Homo sapiens: one gene and its partners. The protein of the gene in region 7 purifies or fractionates together with the protein of the main gene of each other region. This does not show direct contact. Each region holds a gene or a part of one and is shown on either strand. Other genes may lie near its edges. The genes, in order: FARSB, FABP5, NUP155, DSC1, ADNP, NUP50 and SLX4.

Region 1 (3,969 bases), on a different chromosome or scaffold from region 7:
TAGTCCCTCCAAGGGTTGCTTTCTATTTGAAATTCCATTGTTTCTACCAGTCCCCACCTTCCTTTTTACCACCTCTTTGCTTAGCAAGGATATTTCTCTTTCAAGCTGTTTGCCATTTTGGTTATTTTGCTCTTCTGACTCCTTTGGAGCAGTTTTGTCTCCTTAGTCTACCTTTTCAACGGACTTTCTGTGCAGATGGTTTCCTCTTGCCACTCCTTTTCTTGTTAACTGATTTATTATCACTGCTCTTCAATTATAGTCCTGTTCTGGCGTGGTGTAATAGCTGGCAGTAGTGGCAGAACCTTCTGTGTATATCATATACACCCCTAAGGTGTGGTTACTTGATGTGTCATTTCGTTAGAGGAAATTAGTAATCACGATTTTATTGTTGATTTTTCTTTGTATAGAAACCCATGAAATAACAGCTGAAAGGAATAAAACATATGATAATTAGGATTCAGCGTATTTTAATAGTTCTGTACCACTTAGTTATCTATTACTGCATACTAAATTATCCCAAAGTTTAGCATCTTAAAGCAGCTATCATTTGTTATATAGTTTCTGAGGGTCAGGAATTGGGGACTGGCTTAGCTGGGTGGTTTTTGCTCTGGATCTGTTACCAGATTGCAGTCAAGGTGTTTGCCAGATCCGTAGTCATCTCAAGGCCTAACTGGGTCTGGAGAAACTGCTTTCAGGTTCATTCAAGTGGTTGTTGGCAAACCTCAGTTCCTTGCTGATTTTTGGCCATAGGCTTTAGTTCCTCCCACCTTATCCTCTCCATAGGACTACTTAGCACATGTTAGCTTGTTTGCCCCAGATGGAGAGGTCCGAGAGAGTAGGTAAGTAAGAGAGTGCCGAGGATAGACGCCTGTTTTCAATAACAGCTCAGAAGTGATACACTAGCCCTTCTCATATTCTCTTGATCACAGACCAATCCTAGCACAATGTGGAAGGGAACAGTACAAGGGTGTGAATACCAGGAGGCCGGTATTATTGGAGCCCATCTTGGAGGCTGACTACCACCGTTTCCCCTCTAACCTCCACTGATTCAGTTCCTCCCATATGCAAAATATACTCACCCCCTCCCAAGGCCCTCAGAAGTGTCATCCCATTACAGCAGCAGCTCAGAATCTAGAATCTCATCATCTAAATCAGGACCAGATGTGGATGTGGCTCCTTGGGTGTAGTTCCTTCAGTATAGCTTCTTTAGTACACTGTTGGCCTGAGAGACTCGAGAGACCATTTATCTGCCCCACATATACCTAACATACAGTGGTGGGATGGGCATAGGATAACTCCTGTAGCCCTTCCACTTCAAAGGGGCGGAAATGGGAGACACAAAGGAGTCATTGGTCCATGGCAATTCTGGAATCAAGTGGCAAATGTTGGATGTTCTTGATTAGGTCTGAAGGCCTGGAATAATTCTCCATGGCTGTCTGCCCTGCCCTCTAGGCTCTTGGTTTCCACCCCTCTGAGTGATCCCTAGAAAGCATGTGCTTTACAGCTGGTTGGTTTTCTCAGTCTACTTACTGCTAATAGAATTTTGAGAGTTCAAAGACTTTATTTTATCCTATTTCTATCCCTTTCAATTCTAGCTGGCAATGCTTCTGCATATGTATTTCTTCTAAAAACTTGGAAGGTCTTTGGTGCATGTTACTGGCTTCCATTTTATTAGTCAAAAGCCACACCACCTACACATCTCTGAAATATATTGAGTTTCTGCTGATAACAGTGCTCTTAATTAAGCCCTATTGTGTGATTAATTGGATTTATGAGGTGCATTCTTTATAATTTTTAATAGCACCCTTTGTTGGAATGATTAGTGCCTTTGATCTTTCTGGGTCTTAAGATTTTATGGTCATATCCTTGATTTTATCTTTGGACCATGTTTTCCTGGCAGTGCCTTGGATTTGGTCTTTGCTCAGAAGTTATTTCTTAATTTTAGCATTGTTTCACATCTGGAGAAGATGAGAATTTTTTAAATCCCCAACATCCTGGCTCATTTTTGTTTAACAGCCTTTCCTTTAGCTTATCTCTTTTTTTCACATAAGCACAAGAAAAACCCAGGTGGCACTGTGAACACTGGTTGGAAATCTTAGTTACATCACCCCATTGATTTTTTACAGTCCACATTACTGCAAGGAATGGTGTTGCTAAGCCTTCCGCCTCTTCTTAACCAGGATTCCTCTTCTTCTGCTTTCTGATAACATTACCTCACTTTCCTCCATGTCCTCACCTGCATCCTTACCAAAGACTATGAGGCTTCTTTCTTGAGGTTTTCATTTACACGCCTCAAAGCCCACTGCTTGGTTCCAAAGCCATTCCCATGTTTTTCATTTTTGTTACAGCAGTACACCACTTCCAGGGACTAAAGTCTGTATTAGTAATCTATTGCTATGTAACAAATTATTCCAAAGTATTAGTAGTCTGTTGCTACGTAACAAATTACTCTGGTACTTAGGAGTGTAAAACAAGCCTTTATTATTTTACAAAATTTCTGAGAGACAGGAATCGGGGAGTAGCTTAGGAAGGTGGTTCTGGCTTTGGGTCTCACCATGTTGCAGTCTAGCTGTCAGCTGGGGTTGCTGTCATTTCAAGGCTTGGCTGGGCTGGAGAATCTGCTTCCAGACTCACTCAGGTGATTGCTGCAGACCTCAGTTCACACAGGAGCATGAATACAAGGAGGCAGGGATCATGGAACAGGCCGTCTTGGAGGCTGGGTACCTATTACTACCTGCCCTAGTTAATGATATCCCCACCCATTTTTTCCCCCAAACCAGAGATCGGGGAGTCATCTTAGACTCCTTCTACACACTCCCTATTCCTACCTCCCATCATTCGGCCATCGAGCCTTATACATTCCACCTCTTTAACGTTTTTCATATTAATCCCTTCTTCCTCATTCTTGCTGGTGCTGCTTTAAATGAAGTCTTCACTATCGCATCTGTACTATTGCAGTAGACTCCCTGCTCCAATCCATCCTCTACTCTGCGAGCAGTCTTTAGAATGCAGATCTAATCATGTTTTTGCCCAGCCGAAGAATCCCTTCAGTATAATTCTCCATTGCCTGCCTGTAAGAAAGAGGGCAAATTGTTAGTTGACCCCTTTCTCCTTGTTCCATCATATCTTCTGATATGAACTTTATGTTTCATCCATGTTGAACTACTTAAGAGTTTCCAAATTTGCCATGCTGTTTCACGCCCCACAATCTCTGCCTAACGAACTCATCCTTTCTGTGAAGGTTTAGCTGACCATAAGAGAAACTGATTACTTCTTTTGTGCCAGCCCTGTACCTTGTACTTAACACAGTCATATTTATTTACACATCTGGCTTCTTTACTAGATGAGGAAGTAGTTAAGGCAGGAATTGTGTTTTATTTATCTTTGTAACCCTGGTACCTAGTACAGTGCCTGGTATAAGGTGGGTACTCAGTACATAGATGTTAAATTGAAATTTAGTGTCTGAATCAGGAATCTTAAGACCAGTTTTCGCTAGAATATACTGCTAATGATGTTTTGTGTTCAATTTTTGGTAATGTGAGAACCCTGAAAAGCTAAACAGTAGGATATAATATTAAAATAAGGAAGAGAACTTATTTTATTAATTGCTAATAAACTATTAATTATTGTAGACTCACTGTGTCTCAGGGTACTATGCCAGGTCCATTTTATGCATTAGCATTTAAATCTTTCCAATAGTACCATGCCATAATGGCTGTGAAATACCATTTTATAGATGAGGCAGCTGTAATGTTGACACAAGATACCAAGAAAGTTTACATAAGGTGCCAAACTCTCAGATCTAATAAGTGGGATAGAATTCAAACTCTGATTGACTTGGCTTCAAAGCCAAAAGTGTCAGGCCACCTCAGACCATTTTACCTGATAGGACTTATGTGACATTCTGTTGTGTGAGATCTGTGATTTGGAGCCTACTTTATATCTGATCTCTACTTAACAGGTGAACAG
Region 2 (4,528 bases), on a different chromosome or scaffold from region 7:
TTTTGCTAATTTGACAAAATTCAATTCATAAAATAACTTTTTCATTAAGTTCTTGCCTATAAACAGTAAAATGTTATTGATACAGCCTATCATTCTAGAAGCTTCTGTGATTTCATAACATGTCACGACTGACCTGAGTTTTTCTGCCATCAGCTGTGGTTTCTTCAAACTTCTCTCCCAGGGTACAAGAAAACTGTGTTGTTTTCAAAGTGCTCTCAGTTTTTATGGTGAGGTTTTTACCATCACAAGTGATGATACAATCTGGCTTGGCCATTGCGCCCATTTTTCGCAAAGCTATTCCCACTCCTGTAGAATGTTAAGTCATGTTAAATAACAGGAAGACCAAAGTTATCATTTACATGATAAAAGCAATAATTCCATTGTAATCACTTTGTGCGGCATATTTTCACTTATTTGCTTATTGATAACTATTGTAAACATATATCCCACGGTATGAGCCAGCACTTTACATATATGAAATTCAGGTAAGCCTTACAACAGCCCTGTAAAAGGCAGATGTTACTGTCTCCATTTTACTGATGAGAAAGCGAGGCACGGAAGTAACTTGCCCAAGATCATTCAACTAGAAAGTGATGGAGCTGGGAACCAAGAGCACTGGCACCCTGGCTCCAAATCTGAGCTCTGGCCACCATGCTATGCTGGCTTTCAGAAAGTTAGGGAAGAAATGTGGACTTCCAAATTTTATTTACTCAAAGCAGTTGATAGAAGGTGGAGATAAAGCATTCAAAATTGCAAATTCAGGAGTTTGCTCAATCTTTTTCTTTTTACTAGATTCTGCCAACCATTACATTCTATGACTCCAGCACAGTCTGGCATATAAATGTTCTCGATAAATATTTGATTAATAGACTACACAAAATAGAAATTGATCCTGAGATATTCAAATAGCACAATCTTTTAAAACTCAGCAGCACAATCATGATGCTAACAAATGGGAAAAAAAATCCTACCTTTCAATATAAAAACTATTTCATAGGTATATAAATCAATAGAAATATATAACATATTAAATTATATTTTAATTTATGATCTATCAATTTCCCCTCAACGTTAACATGTAATTTATGATCTATCTCTTTCCCCTTAGAGTTAGTTAACATGTATAAGGAATCTTAGATCCAGGCCAAATCACTGTTTCATAAATGAGGAGACTACAACCTACGCAGCATGATTGTCTTGATGAAGAACACCCAGCCAGGCTTTAAAGTTCCCCTTGGAGCCTTCTCTTTTGCCAGCTCAGGGCTGGTGCCTTATGCTGTTAATTGAGTCATTATGTACTCTCACTTTGGACAAATAAATGGGCTCTGCTCTTTTCACATTGTGACTGCTCCCTAATGAACTGAGTCTTGACAACCTTCAAGACTCCAGAATCCTGGAAACAAGCCCTCCAAACCTACACACAATTTGCTTTCTACAGGCAGAGAAAAGTGTTCTTTGGGCCTTAAACTTGTACACACACACACACACACACACACACACACACTGTTATTTATTGGACAGGTGCAGTAAATCGCTTTTTCCAGAGTCATCTTGATGTAGGTTTACAAGGAAAAAGAAAAATACTGCCTTCTTTACTGATAGTATCAAAAATACACTCATGATTCACCATAAACCAGCCTTAACACCACATGGTCTTGGATAAAGGGTACTGAAGGAGTGATTCCGAAGTGCCACGGCGACCAGGTATCAATAGAGGGTCACGGTAGTTATTTCACCAGCGAGCAACCGGGTTAACATTTGTGGATACCGGCTTCTGAAGCACCCTCATAAATCCCAGCCATCCCTTAGGGCTGGAAGCTCCCTTCCAGAGAGGATCCATGCTATGCTAACTCCATCTCACTTCCTAGTGGCCTGTGACAAAGGTCCATTTTTGTTTGCAATTTATCCAGTGTCTCAATCAGCATGCAATCTGTCACTGGCATAGAAAAGGACAGTAATTTATAATGAAGCACTGTTTTGAGTGAGAAATGAATCTTACTACTGAGATTCATTCTCCCTCGGAACGCTTCAAGAAGTCATCTGCCTTCTGCAGGGCCACACCCATCTTGCATGCAGTTAGCCGCAGGAGGGCCAGGCAGTTTCTGTTACGGTTTTCCAGCAAAGCCCACTGCCTCCTTCCTCCTCACCCTCAAGTGGCAGAGGCCAGGATGGCAACACACGGCCACCCCCAGGCCTCATTGCGCTCCTCCCACAGGCCACCCGCCCACTGCGGCGCCCCGGCCCGGCAGTGCCAGCAGCAGGTCGGCACCGCCAGCGCCACGCTTCTCGGGGGCCCTGGTGTTCCATGGGGTACCAATCCAAAGGGTTCGGCTCAACTGGTAAGGGCGAGCAGAGGACCTGGGGGAGACGGGGCTGACAGAGGAATGCAAGCTGAAGCTGTAGCGCCACTCAGACCCCTCCACAGGATTTCTGCGGGAAACTGCGCGCCAGCACCGCGTCCCCATGAAGAAAACGGAGGGTGACCTGCGCGCCACAGGGAACAAAAGATGCGACAGGGAGGGAAAGGGGAGTGGGTGCTGCCACGATGGGGTAAATGGGAGAGACAGAATGGTGGCAGGAAGGGGAAGGATGAGTAAAGGGGGAAAAAAGGGAAATACAGGGTCGCCTGGAGGGGGTCGAAAGAAGTGCAGCGTGAGGTGACGGGTGCGCGCGCTAAAGGACAGGAAGCAATGCGGAAGGGCTGCCGTTTGGGCGAAGGGAAAGAAGCAGAGGTAGGTGGACCACGGGGTGGACCACCTCCGGAATCTTGCGGCCCGCGGGCGGGCAAGAGGCGCGCACGCTCCCTGCTCCTCGCCGCCTGCCCGCGTGGTGCTGCGCGCGCTGCACCCAACGGCCGCGTGGTGGGGAAGATGGGAGGGGATGGGGGTAGGCCGCCGAGCATCTCCTGCCCCAGAATCTGGCACGCTGACGGGGACCTAGGGACAGACGACCGCACAACACGCCACGTTGCAGGCGCTGCCAGGCCGGGTGCCTCACCTAGCTCCTTCATGTATTCATCAAAGCCTTTGCTGTCCACCAGGCGCCATCTTCCTTCCAGCTGCTGAACTGTGGCCATGGTGGGTGCGGGCGGGCTGGCGTGCAGAGAGGGGTCTGCGTCGGCGTGGCAGCGTGCTGTGAGGCACCCGGCGCCGGCGGCTGCTTTATAACGGCGGCCCGCGCTGGGCGGCGCTATGCGGCCAATGGGAGGCGGGCCTCGCCCGGTCCCCGCCCCGCCCGCCGGGCGCCCCCTGGGCCTTCTCGGGGTCGGGAGGTGCTAACCAGCTCCTCTTGCCAGGGTACGCGACGGCCTCTCGGGCGCCTCCTGCAAGCAGGGACTCGCCCGGCGCGCCCCACGCCTCATGGACGCCGGCGCCTGCACGTTTCGGCGCCTCTGCAGGCCCAGGAAGCCAGAGGGGTCACCTGGAGGCCTGGCCCCGCCTCTCCTGCACCCCTCCGTTTGACAACATATCCACCGCCGTTTTTCCTTTCAAAATACCCGGACCAATCGATTAGCCCTCGCCGGACTCGGACTGCAGGAAGTGATTGATCGGCTGTTTGGTTTATTGATTCATTAACTACGGTGCCTCCCTGACCTTCTGCTCCTCGCCAGCGCACAAGCTCACAATCCACACCCTCCTAAGAGAACCTGCTCTCGCCATCCGCAGGTCTCCCTGGCCCAATAGTGGGGATATACCTGAGTTGAGCTAGAGGATTTTATCCCTGTTGGGATGGGGGACGTCTCGGGAAGTGTGGTTTCTAAACTAAAAGACTGCAGGAAGTGTCAACTTTAGTGACTGTCATTGCCATTCAAGAATGTTTGATTAGTTTATATTCCCTTCGTAGTGCACCCTTCACCGTTTCTTCTCAGACACCAGCGGGTTTCTTCTCAGACACCAGCGGGTTCCCTCTTTCTCTTGAACTATAATAATACCCTACACATGTGCGTAGAACATGATACGTTTCAAAGTGTACTCTTCACAATTTATTACTTGGTGCTCCCGGGTGCCTGTTGGAAGTCAGATGGACTGAGGTGAGGAAGTTGCCACACAGGCTGGCCGTTTCGATAGCGGTAATGTGCATTTATTGAGTAGCTACTAAGTGCTAGATGTGCTTCCTGGGCACTTTATAGACATTGGTCTCCACTATATTTTTGCTAGGGGTGTTATCCCAATTTTTCAAAAGAGAAAATAGGGCAAAGATAGTTCTCACAGTGGTAGAACCAGAATCCCCATCCAGGTCCGTCTCACTGAAGACCTTATGAAATCAGACCACACCTGACTGCCTTGGGCTCAGGGTAGCTGTGATGGAGCTCTGAGTAGACCACAGTCACCGAGACACTACTAGTTCTTGTATCATCCTTGACAAAATTGAAATCTGAGGTTGGTTTGCTATCTCCCAACATGCTGCAGGACATGTACTCCCCTGAACTGCATCCCTTTCATTTCAAGTCCCTGCCCTCAGTTTAGGGTCACACCAGTCTTCCTTGTGGTACCATTTAACACTCAATTGTTTTCCCAATAAGGGTCTG
Region 3 (3,969 bases), on a different chromosome or scaffold from region 7:
TCAATAAAATGGTATGGAAAGGGAACCGTTTCCATATTATACCTACAAAAGTAAGGGTATGAATAAAATGGTTTTATTTCTGACTATGTCCAGAGGGAATAGACCCTAAGTCAGAGATGGTCTGTAAACAAGTTTGAATGCTCATTTGAAAAAAAAAAAAAAAAAATTAGGCTGGGCACAGTGGCGAACGCCTTTAATCCCAGCACCTTGGGAGGCCAAGGCAAGCGGATCACCTGAGGCCAGGAGTTTGAGACCAGCCTAGACAACATGGGGAAACCTCATTTCTAATAAAAATACAGAAAATTAGCCAGGCGTGGTTGCAGGCACCTGTAATCCCACCTACTTGGGAGGCTAGGCAGGAGAACTGCTTGAACCTGGAAGGCAGAAGTTGCAGTGAGCCGAGATGGCATCATTCCACTCCAGCCTGGGCGACAGAGAAAGCCTCTGTCTCAAAAAAAAAAAAAAAAGTTATATTGTGAGGATTTTCATGTCTCTCAATATTTTTAAATAACACAAAAGTAGTTGATATTCTAATTTATGGATGTATTTATGTTGCTTCTATTGTTTTACCACTGAGGAAAACACTTGTAGGTTGGCAAATAGCTCATAATTAGCTACCTTATTTAAAAATTATAGCCACCATATCTCATTAAGAAAGGGATTCAAACACTAAGTTTTAACATAATTATTTGCTATTTTAAAGAAAAACATGCCCTCAACATAAAAAAAGAACAGTTGAATCAATCACAGATTACCTATGCACAAAAACATCAACCGTTTTTCTTTTCTCTTCAGAAACTTGTATAGGGTTACCAACAATATAATCATAGTTTGTCAGTCAGCACAATCCTAAGACAGGTAATATAAACTTGGAAAGTTAGTCACAGAAAGTTTCATACTCAACTCTTCATTAACAAATTCTGCCATTCTTTGGAAGTCTTTCCGGAGAGGCAGAATTAAAGTGCTGAACTAAATAGCAAAGAAACTCTTTATTTTACTCGAAAGATCGTTATTTGTCCATATCAACGGAGAAAACCATCAGAACAGAAAATACGTGACTGCACCTAAGATCACAGCTTACCTAAAGGAAAGAAGCGTGGTGTGCCAGCATAAATTTTGCCAAGGAGAACAATCTTGAGACTAAGAGCATGCATTCTATCCGAGGAGCTCAATGTCACACTGTCACTCAATTCTGTAACAAAAAGACATGTCATTTGAAACCCAAATTACTTTTAATGTGAAATGTTTACATTGGTTATTTAATTCTGTTTCAAGGTTCAAAATACTTTAGAACAGATAGTCACATTAATATGATTAACAGATTTGGTGTTTCTGTTATTGTCTGAGATACTCTCATGTCTTACCAGGTTATACTGGTTATTAGATTCTGAGGTGAGTGTCTCAGTATCTTTTATAAGGCAGCACAAATAATATAAATTAAATAACCTTTTCACTGAGTATTCTCCCGAATATTCACTTGGGTCATTCTGTGTATGATCATCCTCCACCATACCCAGGTGACTTCCACTTACTCTCTTCTTAGGTATACACAATTTTCATGAGCCACTAGCAGCTTGCATTATATTAGTTACTAGCAGCTTGCATTCCTCCACCAAGTCACTACATAACGTATGCTAACATACCTATAACTGAACACTTACCTTTCTCTATGATATCTTGCCAAAGTGTCTGCACCAATATAGGGTCTGAATAACCGGCACAATGAATTATTGCAAGTTTGCACTCTGCAAGTTTAAATGGGTCAGCAAATTCCCCATAAAGCTGTGAGAGAAAATCCCAAAATTAACATCCAACTAGAGATCAACATTCAGAGATTAATAGTGAAGCACTCCTTGAAAATTAAAAAATAACCAAAGATTTTACATAAAGTTTCTGAAATATGATATAAAGATGTGATGATGTATGTAGCTGGTTATAACTCCATATTTAAAAAGTTAAGGGTATGGGCCGGGTACGGTGACTCAGGCCTGTAATCCCAGCACTTTAAGAGGCCAAGGTGGGCGGATCACGAGATCGGGAGATGGAGACCATCCTGGCCAATATGGTGAAACCCCGTCTCTACTAAAATTTAAAAAAAAAAAAAATTAGCTGGGCATGGTGGTGCATGGCTGTAGTCCCAGCTACTCAGGAGGCTGAGGAAGGTGGAGGTTGCAGTCAGCTGAGATCACGCCATTGCACTCTAGCCTGGTGACAGAGAAAGACTCTGTCTCCCCCCGCCAAAAAAAAAAAAAAAGGGTAAGGGTATGGTAAATACATTCAAACACATTTTAGCATGTAGAGCTTTTTTCTTGGCTGGGAAGAAGATGTTGCAACGACATTCTATTTATTAATTTTAAAATTCATTTTTTCAAATTTCTGTGGGTACACAGTAGGTGTATGTATTTATGGGGTACATGAGATGTTCTGATACAGTCATGCAATGAGAAATAAGCATGTCATGGAGAATGTCTATTCCTCAAGCAGTTATCCTTTTGAGTTACAAATAATCCAATTACATTCTCTATTTTAAAATATACAGTTATTATTGACTATAGTCACCCTATTGTGCTATCAGATAGGTCTTATTCATTTTGTTTTTGTACCCATTAACCATCCCCACCTTCCCTACAAACCTCCTGCAATGGTATTTTAGAACTAGTGTTGTATAAACAATGGGTTGAAGAATCACAGGAATACTGACAAATCTCAAAGTGTTTCAGGGTACCTGGAACTATGTCTAAGAATAAATGAAGAGGAAGGAACTGCTCAGAAAATTACAGAGAGAGAAAGAGGTTTAGAGAGTTAAGCAAAGATAAGTTAGTTTTTCCAAGGCAAGAAGCGAGGCCATAAATAAGATGGTTTTGGTTTTTTAGTTTTTTTTTCTTTTTGAGACAGGGTCTCACTCTGTCACTCAGGCTGGAATGCAGTAGCACCATCGAGGCTCACCACAACCTGGGCCTCCTGGGCTAAATCAATCCTCCCACCTCAGACTCCTGAGTAGATGAACTACAACCACACACCACCACACCTGGCTAATTTTTTTTTTTTTTTTTTGATGGAGTCTTGCTCTGTCGCCCAGGCTCCTAGACTGCAGTGCCATGATCTCGGCTCACTGAAACCCCCACCTCCTGGGTTCAAGCAATTCTCCTGCCTCAGCCTCCCAGGTAGCTGGGATTACAGGCGCATGCCACCACGCCTGGCTAATTTTTGTATTTTTAGTAGAGACAGAGTTTCCCCATGTTGACCAGGCTGGTCTCAAACTCCTGACCTCAGGTGATCTGCCCGCCTCAGCCTCCCAAAGTGTTGGATTACAGGCGTGAGCCACAGTGCCTGGCCTTTTTTGCTATTTTTTTGTAAAGATGAGGTTTTGCCATGTTGCCCAGGCTGGAAATAAGCTGGTTTTAACACAGCTCTCATGCGAGGATGATAGGTTCTTTGTAGCTACTGGCCTGGAAAGAGTAGCTTAGCCTTTTTCTAGGAGTCAGATGAAGCAGTGGTGATCTGTCAGCCCAGTGACAAGCTGCCAAAGATGCCTTATCTTATTTGTGGAGATAAGGTAATTTTCCCCATGAAACAAAAAGCAAAATAAAAAACAAAAATTTCTCATTATTAGGTAACTACTATAAAAATTTCACTTGCTTTTTTATTACCTTAGTTATGTCCATCAGCTCAGAATCCAGCTGAGAAACTGCATCCTGTACAGAAGAATGATGGGAATACTGCCTTTGTAGTGTCTCCTGTATCTGAAGTTGGATCCTAGCAACCTAGTTTGGGCAGAAAACAGGATGTCTTAATTTATTTATGATAAATCAACATACGTTTGAAAGAACGGATCCTACTATCTGACTTTAAGTTTGCTAAAATAATGTATAAATGAAGATTTCTATCATAATAGGCTAATATTATCATAACAGACATCAACTAAACATAATAGATTTCACAGGAAGTATACTGTGGCAGACTCCTTGC
Region 4 (3,969 bases), on a different chromosome or scaffold from region 7:
TAAGGACAAAATTCTAGAACACGTGTATTGTTAAATCTACCATTAGAATATCTTCAACAACTTTTACAGTTTACATAGTGGTATCACTGGTATTACGGCATTTAATGATCAGAACACTACTGAGGTTGGGAACACAGCTACTAGCAGCCCATAAACAAAGAAGAAAGCGAACTCTAGGAGGTTGTGATTTGTTTGAGGCTACAAGGAAAGGAACAGATACTTAGGATCTACCAATTCCCAGAAACATACATTATTCAATATTTTAAACTATTATTAAAGTATATTACGTTAAAAACATATTATCTTATTTTAACCTCTGCATTGACAGGGAAGTCTTCTATTCTATCCTGCTTCAAGTGATTTTATAATTGCATCAGGTTTACATCTTGTTGCTATACCTCACTTAATGAATTTTACTAATTTGCAAGTGGTGTTTCTTAATGCCAATTCAAACTTAACTGTGTTAATGGGACCTACAGAAACATGGGTAATTCTGAGGCGAAATTATTTAAAAGTTTAACTTTGAGGATAAATTTCAACCTATTTTATTCATTTACATTTTTTTAAATGTTAAAAATAGCAAAGTAACTTATTTTTAATTATAAACTGTTCTCTCCTTTTCCCTCTGGCAATGATCACAGTAAGAAGCAAAGATAGAAAGCAGGTTGGCAAACAGAACCCTATCAAACAATTCCTCAGCAAAATTGAAAATGAAGTGAATATTGCAACATACAGAGTATGAGCTTTTTATATCTCCTCAAGAGTGACTTCTAGTGTTAGATCTTTTCTCTAGTAAAGAAACTGTAAAAGCAGCAGAGAACTTACTATCAATTATTTATTTGTTTATGAGTAGAAAGATCAAAGTGATTGCAATGGTGCTTAGCTTACTTCTCCTGTAAGAACTTGGATACACTATTTTTTAAAGTAAAAGTGTGTTATATTACTAGAAGTAAAATATGTTTATTCTAGAGAATTTGGAAGGGAACATAAAATTATAAAGAAAATATGCCACTACAATCCCACCATGAATTTTGTATTTAATTATGAAACATCTAAAGTGGAAAATTTATACAGTTTCAAATTTTTCACTACCTTATAGACTGCTTTGGAGGATATCCTTACGATAGAATCTACTCCTTAGGATAAATTATAAGGTCTTTCCCTCTCTATTTTTTACTTACTAGCTTCATATTTCACACTCTTCCTTAGCTTCAAATTACACTTCAGCCAGGGTTTGTTGTTGTTGTTGATTTCTTTTTAACAAGTAAATATTTCCATTTCTGATGCATCTTCCTGGAATACTTGTCTACCACTTCCCATCCCCACAATTGTTAACTTCTTTCATAACTGCCTTGAGGTGGCCACTAACTACTACTCATTCTCCAGATGTCTGCTAAGATATTACTCTCTGAACTGCCCAAGTATGAGATAAGTTTCATTTTTATATTCTCCTTTAGCAAAGAACTTTATTATACTCTTATATCATTCAAGACAATAAATGCTTAATCAGTTTTATTCACCACCATTCCAAAAACCTACTATGAATATCTCATTTCATCAGATGAGACATCAGTCCACCAAAGAGTTATATAAAATTAACAGAAACAAAAGGATTTAATTATCAGAAGAGTTAGAATTGTCTTGTCTTTGGGTAGGATAAGATAGAATCAAATGAATTGATAAACTTGTTCTGGGTTACTAAGGAAGTAAAATGGTACTAAGGGATCTCATTGCTGAAGAATAGTGAGAGAAAGGGATGCAAAAAAAAAAAAGCTATGTAAGGGGCTAAGGCAGTGGATCCAACACTTACACATTTAGAATCACGTTGGATGACTGGATCTCATCCCAGAACAATTAAATCAGAATACTTGGGCATGGGTCCAAGCATCAGTATTTTTTTTCAAGTTCTCACATGACTTATAATGTACAGCCATGGTTGAGAATAACTGAGTCATTTTATTATGGATAACTTTAAATTCAGTAAAACTCTTTGTTATTTCTCCAGGATTACAGACCAAAATATATCCTTTAAAATTCCATCGTTATATTTTCTTTACCTCCCCCGCCACTTCCCTTATTATATCCACTGTTTTTCCCCATCAATGGTGAATAGAAATTTAAAGTTTATATTGCATATTAATATCTTGAATATTAAATCAAATAATTGATTCTTATAATATGTAAACAAGCATAGTTGAAAATATTAGTAAGCCAGTAATAAAGATATAATTATGAATAAATATTTCAATAATCCTACCGCAAACTGTTCATATTTCTCACGGTCAATGCTCCTTGTACAAAAGATATCCCCAGTGTCTTTCTCTATGTAAAACAAATTGAAGGGTTCTTTGTCCACGCCTGGCCCACTTATGGAATAAAAGATGGTGTAATTCTGTGCAGCATCAGATTGGATCTGCAGTAATAATTTAGGAATAGAACAAATACGTCATGATGAATATTTTCAACCTAACCTCTTGTGATGGTTTATTTTTTTACCACTACCCCTCTTTCCTACTCTCCTATTCTTTCTTTCTTCTGCTTAGGTGCCCATTATCTGCCATGTTTTCCGAATTTTTATTTGCATTTTGCATTGTGCAAAGCCACAAATTCTGTCACTTATTTGATCTCAACTTTTTTGTCATTTGTATATCTATAAAACATGTAGAGTAATACACTTTTCAAGTTTTATCTATTTATTCTTATCTTCATATAAATAATAGTAACAGTTTCCGTGATTTTGAATTCTTTGGAATTGAAAATTATGTGATAATAAAACTAGAAGTAAAGCAACTTTTCTTCCACAATTAATTCCTCAAGAATTAGAAAATTTTGGCCGGGCGCAGTGGCTCACACCTGTAATCCCAGCACTTTGGGAGGCCTAGGCAGGTGAATCACCTGAGATCAGGAGTTCAAGACCAAACTGGTCAACATGGCGAAACCTTGCCTCTACTAAAAATACAAAAATTAGCTGGGCTTCGTGGTGGGTGTCCGTAATCCCAGCAACTCGGGAGGTTGAGGCAGGAGAATCGCTTGAACCCAGGAGGCAGAGGTTGCGGTGAGCTGAGCTGATGCCACTATACTCCAAAATTTCAAAACTGTTCTATGTTTGCAATCCAGCTATGTGGCAGTGAGGCAATCTTACTTGGTAAGCAGAAATACAGGTCATTTTTATAAAAGATGAGTGTTAGTTTAAGCAAGAATTGAACTATGCAAAACATGTAGGTGTGCCTTCTGTACATTAGTGTTAACAAGTCTAGCATAGTATTTGGGTGAATTTAGACATAGACCTAAGAGCACCAGAAACTCCAAATATAAAACTTGTTTCTAAATTTCTAAATATGATATCTGTAAGAAAGTAATAAGATATACTGGGTCACTTCTATGGGACCCTAGTTCTGGTGAATAGATGATCATTATTTGTACCATTAGTTTAAACCTCTGATTCAATATGCTGTGCAATTCAAATGAAAAGTTTAAGAACAAAAAAAAATTTGGACACATATAAAATCAAATAAGTGAAATGCACCTGCTGAACGTGTTGTGGAAATGGACCCAACGAGTTCTCCATCAATGAAGCTGGAATAGGAGCCCATCGTCTCTTGCTGCGCTTGAGGGCTGTGTCTTTGGTATGTCTCTTCTTAGGAGACTACATTTGACAAGAAACAAAGAAATGTAGCATTGCTTATCATTTTTTGGAACTGTGATTATTTTACACATACATCAACAAGCAGATGTAAGGGTTACACATTACAATATCATGGCTAGTCAGCAAAGCATTTCTATTGATAAAACACACACACACACCTCAGACTACATTATGTTCCCCCGTTCTACCTATTTCTCTATTTACTCAGTTAACCACCAGGAAATGTATAGGGCATTTGGAAAGATGCCACTTTGAGAAAGTATAAACTCCCCCTAAAATAGATAATTCATTAATAAATATTTAAGGATCAACTTTATTCCACT
Region 5 (3,969 bases), on a different chromosome or scaffold from region 7:
GAATTTTAAAGTTTTACTTTTTATGTAGCCTAAGTGTGTTTATAAAGTCTACAGTGATGTACAATAATGTCCCTTCATATTCAGTCACCACTCAGAGCAACTTCCAGTCCCGCAAGTGCCCAATATAGGTGTACCAATTTTTCTTTTATATTGCATTTTTACTGTACCTTTTCTATGCTTCACTATGTTTAGAAACACAAATACTTACCATTGTGTTAATCACTCTTATAGTATTCAGTATATAGTATTCTCTTATAGTAACATGCCATACAAGTTTGTAGCCTAGGAGCAACAGGCCATACCATATAGCGTAGGGGTAATAGGAGGCTATACCACCTAGGTCTGTGTAAGTACCCTTTATGATGTTTGTACAACAATGACATCACCTAACAGGGCATTTCTCAGAATGCATCCCATCATTAAGCAATGCACGACGGTATTATACGCTGTAAATAACTGTATGTGCTATACTTCTATGACTGGCAGCACAGGTGTGTTTACATTAGTATCACTACAAACATGAATCATATGTTGCGCTATGATGTCATAAGGTAGCAAGTTTTTCAGCTCAATTATATTCTTATGGGACCACTGTCGTAGATGTAGTTCATCACTGACCAAAATGTCGTTATGTGGTGAATGACTGCGGTAAAATTCAGGGCCCACGATGTTTTAGTGCAATTAGACAATTACAAGAGATAAAGCTATATCTTTTATTCCTTTCCTCATTATGGATAAATTTTCATAGAAAAAAGGCAAATCTCCATTTTTTCCTCTGATTAAAGTACAGTGTAGTATCAGATTCAGCGCTGATCAAAAGAAAGACTGATTTGAAAAGTTGGCTTTCTTCTATAAGCCTTGCTGTTCCTTCTCAACCAAGAACACTTCAAAAGAGCTAATGAAGTAATAGCTGCTTTGATTCAAATCAAGAAGTTAAATAAAAATGTCCTACAGACTGTGAGGAGGGTGAGGTATTTAAAAGCCAATAATACATTATAGAATATACTGATATCAAAGAGCAACTTTCAGAATTATGATTGTTAACACCTATGCAGTCAGTCCTTTGATGAAGGCAGGTGAACTGACATGCTTGGTAAGAGATTATCTTTTCTCCCTAGAAACCTACTTGTTTCAGATACTGGTTTGAACCATGATGAAATACTCTGCTTCTCCTCAAAGCTCAACTCTTCTTTAGTATTCAGCTATGAGGCTTTCAGATTGATAAAACTGAATTAAATAAATGATGTGTCCCACTGGAAAGCATTCTCATTCTAAGACTGCTGGTTAGTAACTTTGCCTGGGGTATTTAAAAAAAAAAAAAAAAAAAAAAAAAAGTCAAATATCTGAGTACTAATTTCCTGAAAAGTATGTTCCGATAGATGAACAGATCATTAATGCAGAATGAGAATCACTCCTAAAATAGGTAATGGTAAAAATTAAATTGACAATTACCTCTCTCTATGCAGAAGGAAATATCACCTATATGACATCATCATCATCTATTGATACTTGCTGGCAGTGCTAATATTGTTTTTAATGCCAATTTGTAAGAAGTTTTATCTCTCTGTCACTGACATCCTACAGAGTCACTTCCCCAGGCCTCCCATAGAAGTTGGGTGCCATCAACATAGGGAAATAAGAAAAGCTTAAATGTAAGGAAGGGTCTTGTCTTTTTCTGTGCAGAAAAAACAAGAATGGCAACACAGATGCAGAAAAATAGAGCCAGAGCACTTTTAGGGGAAATGGTGGGATACAGCAGGCTTCGTAACTTTTAAGTAACAAAATTTTGTTTCTTCTTACACCTCAAGTTTTAGTCCAATGACAAAAAAGGACAAAAAGTTTTTCTTAGTCTTCCCACTGGTCAGGAAAATATGAAATGCAATTTTGACACTTTCGATGTTTGGCACTTGCCCGCAATCACTGCACCGCTATAAAAGGCCTAGAGCTGAAAAGGGAGTATACCAAGCATGCTGCCATCTGAGGAAGTCTCCTGTGCCACTTACCTGGTTTTTCGTAAGTGATGGGTCCCACAGTCCTACATCCTCCCATGTAGTGTTTTTCAAATAAAAGTCATTAGGTTCAAATTGTTTAAAATCCTAGAAAACAGTGAAATAAGTTTACAAAAACATAGTGGTATAAACGCTAACCCAATCTTACATGTAAATCTCACCTCTTAACTAAGATGGGGAGAGGCACAGGAAAACCAACGTCAACAAGGACTTAAACTAGGAGTGATAAGGCTCTTAAATATAAAAAGGCATATGGAAGTTGCAGTCTACATTTTATATCAACCAACCACTTTCCTGATGGTCAGTCAGGTTTCCAAGGAAATTGCTGGAAGTTCTAATTAAGTAAAAAATTCAGCCACACACTAATATCAAAGCACTTTTCATTAGAGTACTGTACTCTAACTCGTCAGTTACAGTACTGGAATGGTGTCTAAAATAGCAATGTTTGCTTACAGCACTGCAAATATGATTTCTGGTTCTGTGCAAAAAAAAGATTTTTTTCGAGGGGAGGGGGCAGGAGATCAGATCAGGAAGAAAACTCAAATTTCAAACCCAAAAAGGCAGAAAGAAAGCTATTCAAAGAAAGTTAAGCAGTATGATGTTAAATTTATACTCTCATGTAAAAATTTAATGGTCCACTTCCCTCCAGACTAGGAAGATTAAAAGTCTTAGGGTAAAATCCCACTTGTTCCTAAAAAGTTCACAGTTCAAGGTGGAAAATGAAGTCTACACATAAATAATCATAGGAGGAACAAATCAAATGCATGACAGAAATGTACTGTGATGTTGGTATTAATTATTTCTATGAAGATGACCCCACAGAGTGCAAAGTGAATGGACTGTTTCATTTGGGCAGATCTACCTGAACTCTGGGGTTGGAGAAGGGCTACTTCCACACTTGGAACAACGTGACTAGAGAAGTCAACTTTTGAGCAGCTTCTGTTTCCATGCCATACTCTTCAAGTATTATTAGTGGAACTCAAATTAAGAAAACCTGTTGTATGAATGAATTTGCTTTTTTACTTCCAATTCCATTCAAACACTTACTGATCACCTATTACGTGCAAAACACTGTGCTAGGTGCTGGGGCTAAATGGATAAACAAGGTAGCTATGTTCCCTAGCCACCTAGAACTTAAAGGTTAGTGGGGGAAACAGCTTCAAACATTTCTTTTCAATCAGGGGCTCTGACCAACAAACCATAAGACCTGGAACAGTGAGATGTTGAAAAGGAGACCACTGCATGGCTATCCCACAGAGCTGTTATAAAGCTCATAGAATAAAACAGCTTGAAAAACAGTTCATAAAGCCCAAACTGTTATACAAGGGGGAAAGTAATAGTCTATGATGGGTCAAAAGGGGCAACAAATGCTCAAATCCTAAGGAAAGAGACAACAAGCACCCACACAAGCACGCCTCAACAATTAGAAGAAGGTCAACCAGAACATTCAGGCGTATCAGAATGAGAACAGGCTTTGAGTCCCACAGACACTGCCACTTTCTCAGCTGCAAGGCTGGGCCTATTTATTTGTTCTTCATCTGTGAAGTGGAGATAAGAACTGCTACACTGCCTCCCGCCTCCATGGTTGTTCTAAGGATTAAATGTATAGACAACTTTACGGCACCTAGTTCAACGCCTGACATGCTTAAGTCCTCAATGGTAGCCTTCTGCTTCAGGATGCAAAAATGAAAAAGCCCATTTTAGGGAGAAAGGCACAAGTTAATGCTATTGAGAATGTTTTCGTGAAGCTACTGCTGTGGCTGAAATTCAGAATCACATCTAAGATTTAGCCATCTTGGCCACTGACACAAAGTAATGGATCAGAAGCTGAGTCATGTTAAAATTTAAAAATGACATGCTACTTACTTCTATATGTTCTTTACAGTATTCCAACCCAATGTCACTAAGTATTTTTTTCACAGTTTTCCGGGCTTTTCTTAAACTGCCAAGATTGTTGACA
Region 6 (3,969 bases), on a different chromosome or scaffold from region 7:
TGAATATTTTAATGTCTAAGCAAATAGTTACATGGTAATCTAGATGTTACTATAGCCCAGAATGTAACTGTGCTTAAGATCTTAAACCAACAACAACAAAAAACCAAAAACCCCCATAACCAAAGATTTTAGTTAAAAAGCACCAAATCAGTTTTGACCCTGTCAAAACACTCACATCCTTGGGATTCTGGTTTCCCTAAACATATGTGAGGAGATACACTTGTAGAGAAAAAAAGTACTAGTACCAGAAAGATTCCAAAAGAAGGAAGATGGCCGTCTAAGAATAAGCTTGGAAACAGTTGCAGTTTTAACATTTTTCTTTTTTCACTTAGCACTATGCTGTTAACCTGAAAGTCGTGGTTACAGATTTCCTTAGTCATCTGGCCTGGGGGTAACACACTGCTGATAAGGTACGACTGTAGAGTCCAGCCCTACTGGGCTTTGCGGGTGTTCTCCTCGAAGGGGGAAACAGAGATTGTAAGAAATAAAGACACAAGACAAAGAGATAAAGAGAAAACAGCTGGGCCTGGGGGACTACTACCACCAAGACACGGAGACCGGCAGTGGCCCTGAATGGCTGGGCGTGCTGATATTTATTGCATACAAGACAAGGGAGCAGGGTGAGGAGGATGAGTCGTCCAGGGGATTGACAAGGTCAAGCAAGTCACGTGATCATGGGACAGGGGCCCTTCCCTTTTAGGTAGCTGAAGCAGAGAAGGAAGGCGGCGTACGTCAGCATTTTCTTCTATGCACTTATCAGAAAGATCAAAGACTTTAAAACTTTCACTATTTCTTCTACTGCTATCTACTAAGAACTTCAAAGAGGAACCAGGACTACGGGAGGAGCATGAATGTGGACAAGGAGTGTGACCACTGAAGCACAGCACCACAGGGAGGGGTTCAAGCCTCTGGATGACTACTGGCAAGCCTGGACAATATCCAATCTCCCACAAGAAGGTGGTGGAGCAGAGTGTTCCCTGACTCCTCCAAGTAAAGGAGACTCCCTTTCACGGTCTACTAAGTAACAGGTGCCTTCCCAGGCACTGGCGTTACCACTTGACCAAGGAGCCCTCAAGCGGCCCTTATGCGGGCGTGACAGAGGGCTGGCTCACCTCTTGCCTTCTAGGTCACTTCTCACAATGTCCCTTCAGCACCTGACCCTGTATCTGCCGGTTATTCCTTGGTTATATTAGTAGTACAACAAAGAGTAATATTAAAAGCTAATGACTAGTAATGTTTATACTAATGATTGATAATGCCCGTGATCATCTCTGTATCTAATTTGTATTATGACTATTCTTATTCTAACTATTTTATGTATTATACTGAAACAGTTTGTGCCTTCAGTCTCTTGCCTCGGCACCTGGGTAATCCTTCGCCCACATCCTATAAGTACAGCTGTGTTTTATTCTTTGTTTTTTAGACAGGGTCTCACCCTGTTGCCCAGGCTGGAGTGCAGTGGTGCAATCACAGGTCACAGCAGCCTTGAACTCCTGGGCTCAAGCAAACCTCCCGCCTCAGCTTCCCAAATTGCTGTGACTATAGGCTCATGCCACCATGTTCAGCTAATTAAAACAATTTTTTGGGGGGTTGGGTGCGGTGGTTCTCGCCTGTAATCCCAGCACTTTGGGAGGCCAAGGCGGGTGGATCACTTGAGGTCAGGAGTTTGAGACCAGTCTGACCAACATGGTGAATCCCTGTCTCTACTAAAAATACAAAAATTAGCTGGGTGTGGTGGTGTACACCTGTAATCCCAGCTACTCGGGAGGCTGAGGCAGGAGAATCACTTGAACCCGGGAGATAAAAGTTGCAGTGAGCCGAGGTTGTGCCACCGCACTCCAGCCTGGGCAACAGGGTGAGACTCTGTCTCAAAAAAAAAAAAAAAAAAAAATTTTTTTTATAGAGACCGGGATCTCTCTATGCTGCCCAGTCCTACTGTTTATAAGGGAAAAATGATCAGATTTCCTCAGGGGAGACCATTTTTATTCTGCTGGAAAAGGAACTAGGCCAATCTCAATTCTATTCCTATAAATGCAATTGTTAGGGGTCTCAGGTCTACCATTAAGAAAAGGAAATAAAGCAGGCCTCCAAGAAGCATTAGGGAAACGGAGTACCACAGACCAAGATGGTGATGGTGTACCACTTTCACATCTGGGCAGTGTGCTAAGTTCATGACTACATCACTTAACTCAGCCTTCAGTCATGACTAAAATGGCTTACTGCAAACATGGGTTCAGAATGCTTCAAGTATACGAAACTCAGGAGGAAAAGTGCTTCTACTAAGGAGAATATTTAAGGAGCAGGCACTAGTGGAAAAGCACATCTAAATGTAATTAATACATTTCTACACTAACTAGAGGTCACAGAAATGTAATTAATAAATATCTACACTAAGTACAGGTCATATAATTTCTTGTCATCTCCCATTCATGATGTTCTTAGAAAGGTCTTTTAGTTCTGTCACAAGTCTTCATGAGGAACCCCAAAATGAATGTAAAAGGCAAAAGAAACAGGAAATCATTCTTAGGGAAGCTGCTTTTTACCTCTTCAGCTTCATCTTCTTGATCCCAATTCCTATCTGTCAGTTCCTTCTCGGCATTTCTTTTGGCCATGTTTTCGAACCTAAGTTATAGAAAACAGAAGAGTTTATTTTTCTAGAAGAATAAATTCTTATAAAGAATTTTAAAAATTCACTCTAGCATGAAGTGAGATAAAAACATCTCTGGTTTTTTTATCAGGGAAAAAAAGCATCTGGAAACTGCTTTAATGAGAACTTTACATTGGTGCTGTTAGGCTCCCAGTGTTACAAATCAATAAAGGCTTTTTCCAGGAGGCAGAAGAAGATTCCTAGGGAACACCAGCAGTCCTGAACAACACTAAACCGACTCCATTTGGAAAAATTAAAATGAAATATCAATTGATTTTTTAAAAATCTGGAATCTGAAGTACTGTATATATAATCAAAAAGTCCTTAACTTATTCTACGCATATACATACTGAAAGTCTTGTCATAAAGAAAATAATTTTAATATTTAAAATTCTCTTAAAGATGACCCATTAAAGAAGTGTATCTTTCAGTAAGAATACGAATAACGGGCTGGAAACGCCTCCACAACACGAATACTGTTCTTTAAGCTACAGCCGACAGAGATACATGGTTCCCAAGACTGAACATTTTGTTGCTTCAAATTGTATATTGCCAAGACAATTAGAAGTCCAAAATGATTAACATGGGTGTGTTAGTATTCTGGGAACTTATAACCTTTCAAAAACAAATCATTGGCTTAACTCTTCAATACGATGGCATTAGTGGAAGGGGCAGGAGTTGGGGAACGGCGTGAACTCTGCAGTGGATTCCGGCACCTAACCAAAGAGGGTGCTCCTGTCCATCCCTTAAAATTTACGATTTGTTTTCTGATCTTAATATCATAACAACAAAACAAAGAAAACCCACAACCCAGAGCTCCGCTATGAGTGTTGTGCTGCCTTCTTCACTAACTCTCCAGCTGGACAAAAAACCTTTCCATTTCCCCTGCTACCCACCTCGCCCAAAAACTTACTGATTAGTTTTGGGGACCTGCCAGGTCTTGTTAAACCTGCCTGAACTCCTTCGTGATACTCTCCCCACTCTTGTTTGCTCTCAACACCACAATACACCAGAGTAAGCTTCCTTATTCTGGTGTATTGTGTAATACAGAGTGTATTACAACCCCACAAAGTGGTCGCTAAGATATGAGGTGACATATCACTCTTTAGTATCTAAAAGTAAAATGCAAATGCTGGTATTCCAAAGGCCTCTACAATTTGATGGCCAGTGGAGTAATTACATACGGGCTGTCAGCTTTTAATACATTTTAGTGATTTTTAAATTTTGTAAGTTTATGCTATTTTTCTGATTACAAATGATATTAAAGTCCAAGATTCTAAAATATAAAGGATGAGAAATAAATACACTTTCCATTCGCTGGG
Region 7 (3,969 bases):
CTCCTGTTCATTTCCTCCAAACCAAACGAGCTGCTGCCCGTTGAAAGTGCAGAGTCCCGGGGCGGCTGGTATAATGTTGACCATCGGCAGCCTAAGCTGGGAAGCCCTTCCTTCTGGCCATGGACAGAGGCACTGCCGTGGAGCCCTTGCAGGAGGGAAGGGATCCTTTTCTGCCGGTGTGGCCAGGACCGTGTAAGGAGCATCGGAAGTATTGATGGGTGAAGGTGGTGGGAGTCCAGGGAGCCTGCTCAGAGCCATCGATTGTTGACTCCATTGGATGGGCTTGGCCACATGAGGATGTGCAGGTACCACAGATGGCTCCGTACATCTGCCATGAGCCTGCTGGACAGCAGCACGTGAAGGAACCCAGACCCTCCTGTGCCTGGGCCATGTTGAACTTCTGGCCTGGAATTGAATGAGTTCACACAAGGCAGTGGAAGTGGGGGACGCATCTGCCTGGCAGGTCCACATCCGTCACTTTTCTCTCAGGCCCAGCCCTCTCCAGACCAGTGTGACCAACCTGAGAAGCGTGCACTCCTCTAGCCCCAGTAACTTTTCTCTTTGGCTGTTTTCTAGCTTCAGTGATCACAGTAGAGGTCTGAAACGGAGAGGACCCACCAGCAAGAAGGAGCCACGGAAGAGGCGGAAGGTGGACGAGGCACCGTCCGAGGACCTGCTGGTGGCCATGGCTCTGTCCCGGTCGGAGATGGAGCCGGGTGCGGCTGTACCAGCGCTCAGGCTGGAAAGTGCCTTTTCTGAGAGGATAAGACCAGAAGCAGGTTTGTGTGATCAGAAGAGTGACCCTGGGAGAGGCCATCAGCAGGTCCCGGGTGAGTGGACCGACTCCACCGTTGATGGTGTCGCTTTTGTTTCTCTCTAGAGAATAAAAGTCGCAAGAAGAAACCCCCGGTATCCCCCCCATTGTTGTTAGTCCAGGACTCTGAAACCACAGGCCGACAGATAGAGGACCGTGTGGCCCTGCTCCTCTCTGAGGAAGTGGAATTGTCTAGCACGCCACCACTTCCTGCCAGCAGGATTTTAAAGGAAGGGTGGGAAAGAGCGGGCCAGTGTCCTCCTCCACCTGAACGCAAGCAGAGCTTTCTGTGGGAGGGCAGCGCACTGACTGGGGCCTGGGCCATGGAGGACTTCTACACGGCCAGGCTGGTCCCTCCTCTCGTGCCCCAGCGGCCTGCCCAGGTGAGTCCCTCCCCTCAGGCACATGGATAGGCTTTTGGGGGAGGTTGGCAATCCCAGAACTGCAACACTGGGTACCCACAGCCAGGTGATGGAAAGTCCAGGAAGGAAAGGCAGAGGCGGGAGGAGGCCAGAGGGGCACTTGGTGGCTGCAGCTTTCTTCTCTGTCCAGCAACTACATGGTACTCTGGGTAGGATCAGGGAGGACCCTTGGTGTCCACCAGAGTGTGTTCCTGGAGTTTGTTGAAAATGCAGAGTCCCGGCCGGGCGCAGTGGCTCACGCCCGTAATCCCTGCACTTTGGGAGGCTGAGGTGGGCGGATCACGAGGTCAGGAGTTCGAGACCAGCCTGGCTAATATGGTGAAACCCCATCTCTACTAAGAATACAAAAATTAGCCAGGCATGGTGGCACACACCTGTAATCCCAGTTACTTGGGAGACTGAGGCAGAAGAATCGCTTGAACCGGGGAGGCGGAAGTTGCAGTGAGCCGAGACCGTGCCATTACACTCCAGCCTGGGCAACAAAGTGAGACTCTGTCTTGAAAAAAAAAAAAAAAACAGAGTCCCAGGGCAACTGGCAAAATGCCTCAGATGGAGCCCGGAAACTGGCATTCGGAGCACACACTCCAGACAGTCGTGCGGCAGGTAGCCCTACAGTCAGTACGCAGCTGCCTGAGGCAGCTTGGAGGACTTCAGGAGGGCGGCAGGCCTGGGCCCCCCTGGCCTCTGACAAGCCTTTGTGCAAACAGATGCCACAGGCCTGGCCTTGGCCGTGACAGAGGAGGAGCATGTTGACATGAGTGCTGGGGAAAAGCATCCCAGGACTGCTCCAGGCTGTGGCTGGAGCCCCGGGGACAGTCTGTCCCCACAGCCCACATCCTGCTCTGTAGTTTTAGGTCCAGCCGTGCATACCACATGTGATGGCTTCTGCAGTGTGTGCGTCAATGACAGTGACCACGTGGTCACTCTCCTTACTGGCTTCTTTCAGGGCCTTATGCAGGAGCCCGTGCCGCCTCTGGTGCCACCTGAGCACTCAGAGCTGAGCGAGCGAAGGTCACCCGCTCTCCACGGCACCCCCACTGCAGGCTGTGGCTCCAGGGGCCCGTCGCCTTCGGCCAGCCAGAGGGAGCACCAGGCCCTGCAGGACCTCGTGGACCTGGCGAGGGAGGGACTGAGCGCCAGCCCGTGGCCCGGCAGTGGGGGCCTGGCTGGCTCGGAAGGGACTGCAGGTGAGATGCTGGGTGGGACTCTAGGGCCAGCCCTGCCCTCCCGGGCCTCCCCTCCCCGCGGCTGAGGCTGCCATGGACTGGCTCTTGTGCCGCCGCGACGGCAGCTCTGACCTGGTGGGAGAACACGCAGCCTCTGGGCGCTTTCATTTTTTCTCAAAGGTCAATGTGGTGTAGACAACTCTGTCATGATTTTCCTTCCACTTTAACCAAAGACAGAGCTGTCTGCCCACAGCGAGTGAATCCTCTGGGTGAACTGTCTGTTTTGCTCTTCTCTTACCTCCCTGGTGGAGTGGTGGTGAGACAGGGTGTGCGGGTTTGCTTTGCATGAAGGTGTCCTCGGATAGCAAGCACCTTCCGAGGCACCGCAGGGGCTGGCTCAGCCTGTGGTCAACGCTGTCTTCTTGGTGGTGGATGTGGCTGGGCTGTGACGTTCCTTTAACCTGTGAATCCTCCACTCAGGGTTGGACGTGGTGCCCGGCGGCCTTCCTCTGACTGGGTTTGTGGTGCCATCGCAGGACAAGCACCCGGACAGGGGCGGCCGCACCTTGGTAAGAACTGGCTCTGGCCCGCGCTCTCTGGTCCCGGCCATCCCACTTGCCATGTGTGTGGTGGGGTTGGCTCACCGCTGGCCTCTGGCCCCCAACGCAAGTGCAGTGGCCTCTCAAGGCCTCTGCTTTCCAGAAGGCTGCCACATCCTGACATCCGTGAGCAGAGCCACGGACCCACAGCCACCTCAGCGCCCCTCTGGGGGCTCTGCCACGAGACTTCTGCCTTTTCTGTCTGTGACTCCATGGGGCACCTTGGGGTTGAGGCCCCAGAGCCTGCCCTGTCCTGGGTCCCAGGAGTGTAGAGGGACCACAGTTTCTCAGCGCGGTTGCCCCATCCAGGCACGCTCTGCTCGTTCCTCAGTAGTTGGGAGCTCACCAAGGGCTTGCTCTCCCTCCCCTCTGTGCGGGTCCTGGGCTCCAGAGCACAGCTGAGCAGCCTGGCCTGGCCTCCCTGTCAGTGCGCTGTCTGGGGAAGAACCGGGGTGGGAACTGGCTTTTCCCTAGAGTGGACCTCCTCCCATTTGCATGTCAGTGTCAACCAAGCACTTCATGCCAAGGCCAGCCTAGGGACATCATCACAGACTGGACCCGGCTGTCCTCTTGGCCAGGTCCCCGAGCTGCTTGGACTCAGGGTGCTTGTCCGTCACAGGGGATGGGTGCACCTCCTCAAAGCCCAGGTATCCCGCAGCCTGTCCCACTCAGTGCGGGAGCTGCCAGCACTGTGAGTTCACATCTAGCCCCATGTCTGGCATCTCCACGGGGGCCAGGGAACCCACTGGCAAGAGCCAGAGGAACAAGCTAGTGCTTTGCTCTTCTGTGCTACTCAGGGCCTTAGGGTCACTCAGAGGTTGAGGCCATCGTGGGAAGCGTTTTGGAGAGGAAAGGAGAATGCAGGTCCTGGCTCCCGGCCCACCCTAGCGCCACCTCCATGCGGGGAGCTTCCCACTGCCCAGTTAGCAGAGCAGAGGTGGGGAGGTGACGGCTCTTCCTCTCCTCCT

What was found.
Region 1: the proteins of SLX4 (region 7) and FARSB purify together in Homo sapiens (affinity purification with mass spectrometry; 2 studies listed by BioGRID and IntAct, with this or other methods). This does not show direct contact.
Region 2: the proteins of SLX4 (region 7) and FABP5 purify together in Homo sapiens (affinity purification with mass spectrometry; 2 studies listed by BioGRID and IntAct, with this or other methods). This does not show direct contact.
Region 3: the proteins of SLX4 (region 7) and NUP155 purify together in Homo sapiens (affinity purification with mass spectrometry; 2 studies listed by BioGRID and IntAct, with this or other methods). This does not show direct contact.
Region 4: the proteins of SLX4 (region 7) and DSC1 purify together in Homo sapiens (affinity purification with mass spectrometry; 2 studies listed by BioGRID and IntAct, with this or other methods). This does not show direct contact.
Region 5: the proteins of SLX4 (region 7) and ADNP purify together in Homo sapiens (affinity purification with mass spectrometry, with the first as the bait; 2 studies listed by BioGRID). This does not show direct contact.
Region 6: the proteins of SLX4 (region 7) and NUP50 purify together in Homo sapiens (affinity purification with mass spectrometry; 2 studies listed by BioGRID and IntAct, with this or other methods). This does not show direct contact.

The regions. Positions count from the first base shown.
Region 1 is NC_000002.12:222,649,388-222,653,356, reverse strand, and holds part of FARSB (phenylalanine--tRNA ligase beta subunit), read left to right. Parts: intron 1-2,457; exon of another isoform or gene 2,458-3,071; intron 3,072-3,969.
Region 2 is NC_000008.11:81,279,144-81,283,671, reverse strand, and holds the start of FABP5 (fatty acid-binding protein 5), read right to left. Parts: upstream 3,137-4,528; 5' UTR 3,077-3,136; coding exon 2,998-3,076; intron 2,733-2,997; exon of another isoform or gene 2,628-2,732; intron 2,340-2,627; exon of another isoform or gene 2,248-2,339; intron 307-2,247; coding exon 134-306; intron 1-133. UniProt on the Homo sapiens protein: Intracellular carrier for long-chain fatty acids and related active lipids, such as endocannabinoids, that regulate the metabolism and actions of the ligands they bind.
Region 3 is NC_000005.10:37,297,787-37,301,755, forward strand, and holds part of NUP155 (nuclear pore complex protein Nup155), read right to left. Parts: intron 3,765-3,969; coding exon 3,651-3,764; intron 1,783-3,650; coding exon 1,662-1,782; intron 1,193-1,661; coding exon 1,082-1,192; intron 1-1,081.
Region 4 is NC_000018.10:31,152,517-31,156,485, forward strand, and holds part of DSC1 (desmocollin-1 isoform Dsc1a preproprotein), read right to left. Parts: intron 3,647-3,969; coding exon 3,527-3,646; intron 2,414-3,526; coding exon 2,258-2,413; intron 1-2,257. UniProt on the Homo sapiens protein: A component of desmosome cell-cell junctions which are required for positive regulation of cellular adhesion.
Region 5 is NC_000020.11:50,900,014-50,903,982, forward strand, and holds part of ADNP (activity-dependent neuroprotector homeobox protein), read right to left. Parts: coding exon 3,876-3,969; intron 2,097-3,875; coding exon 2,004-2,096; intron 1-2,003.
Region 6 is NC_000022.11:45,166,821-45,170,789, reverse strand, and holds part of NUP50 (nuclear pore complex protein Nup50), read right to left. Parts: intron 2,625-3,969; exon of another isoform or gene 2,623-2,624; 5' UTR 2,613-2,622; coding exon 2,544-2,612; intron 1-2,543. UniProt on the Homo sapiens protein: Component of the nuclear pore complex that has a direct role in nuclear protein import. Actively displaces NLSs from importin-alpha, and facilitates disassembly of the importin-alpha:beta-cargo complex and importin recycling.
Region 7 is NC_000016.10:3,594,607-3,598,575, reverse strand, and holds part of SLX4 (structure-specific endonuclease subunit SLX4), read left to right. Parts: exon of another isoform or gene 1-415; coding exon of another isoform or gene 416-576; coding exon 577-779; intron 780-880; coding exon 881-1,197; intron 1,198-2,182; coding exon 2,183-2,423; intron 2,424-2,882; coding exon 2,883-2,971; intron 2,972-3,969. UniProt on the Homo sapiens protein: Regulatory subunit that interacts with and increases the activity of different structure-specific endonucleases.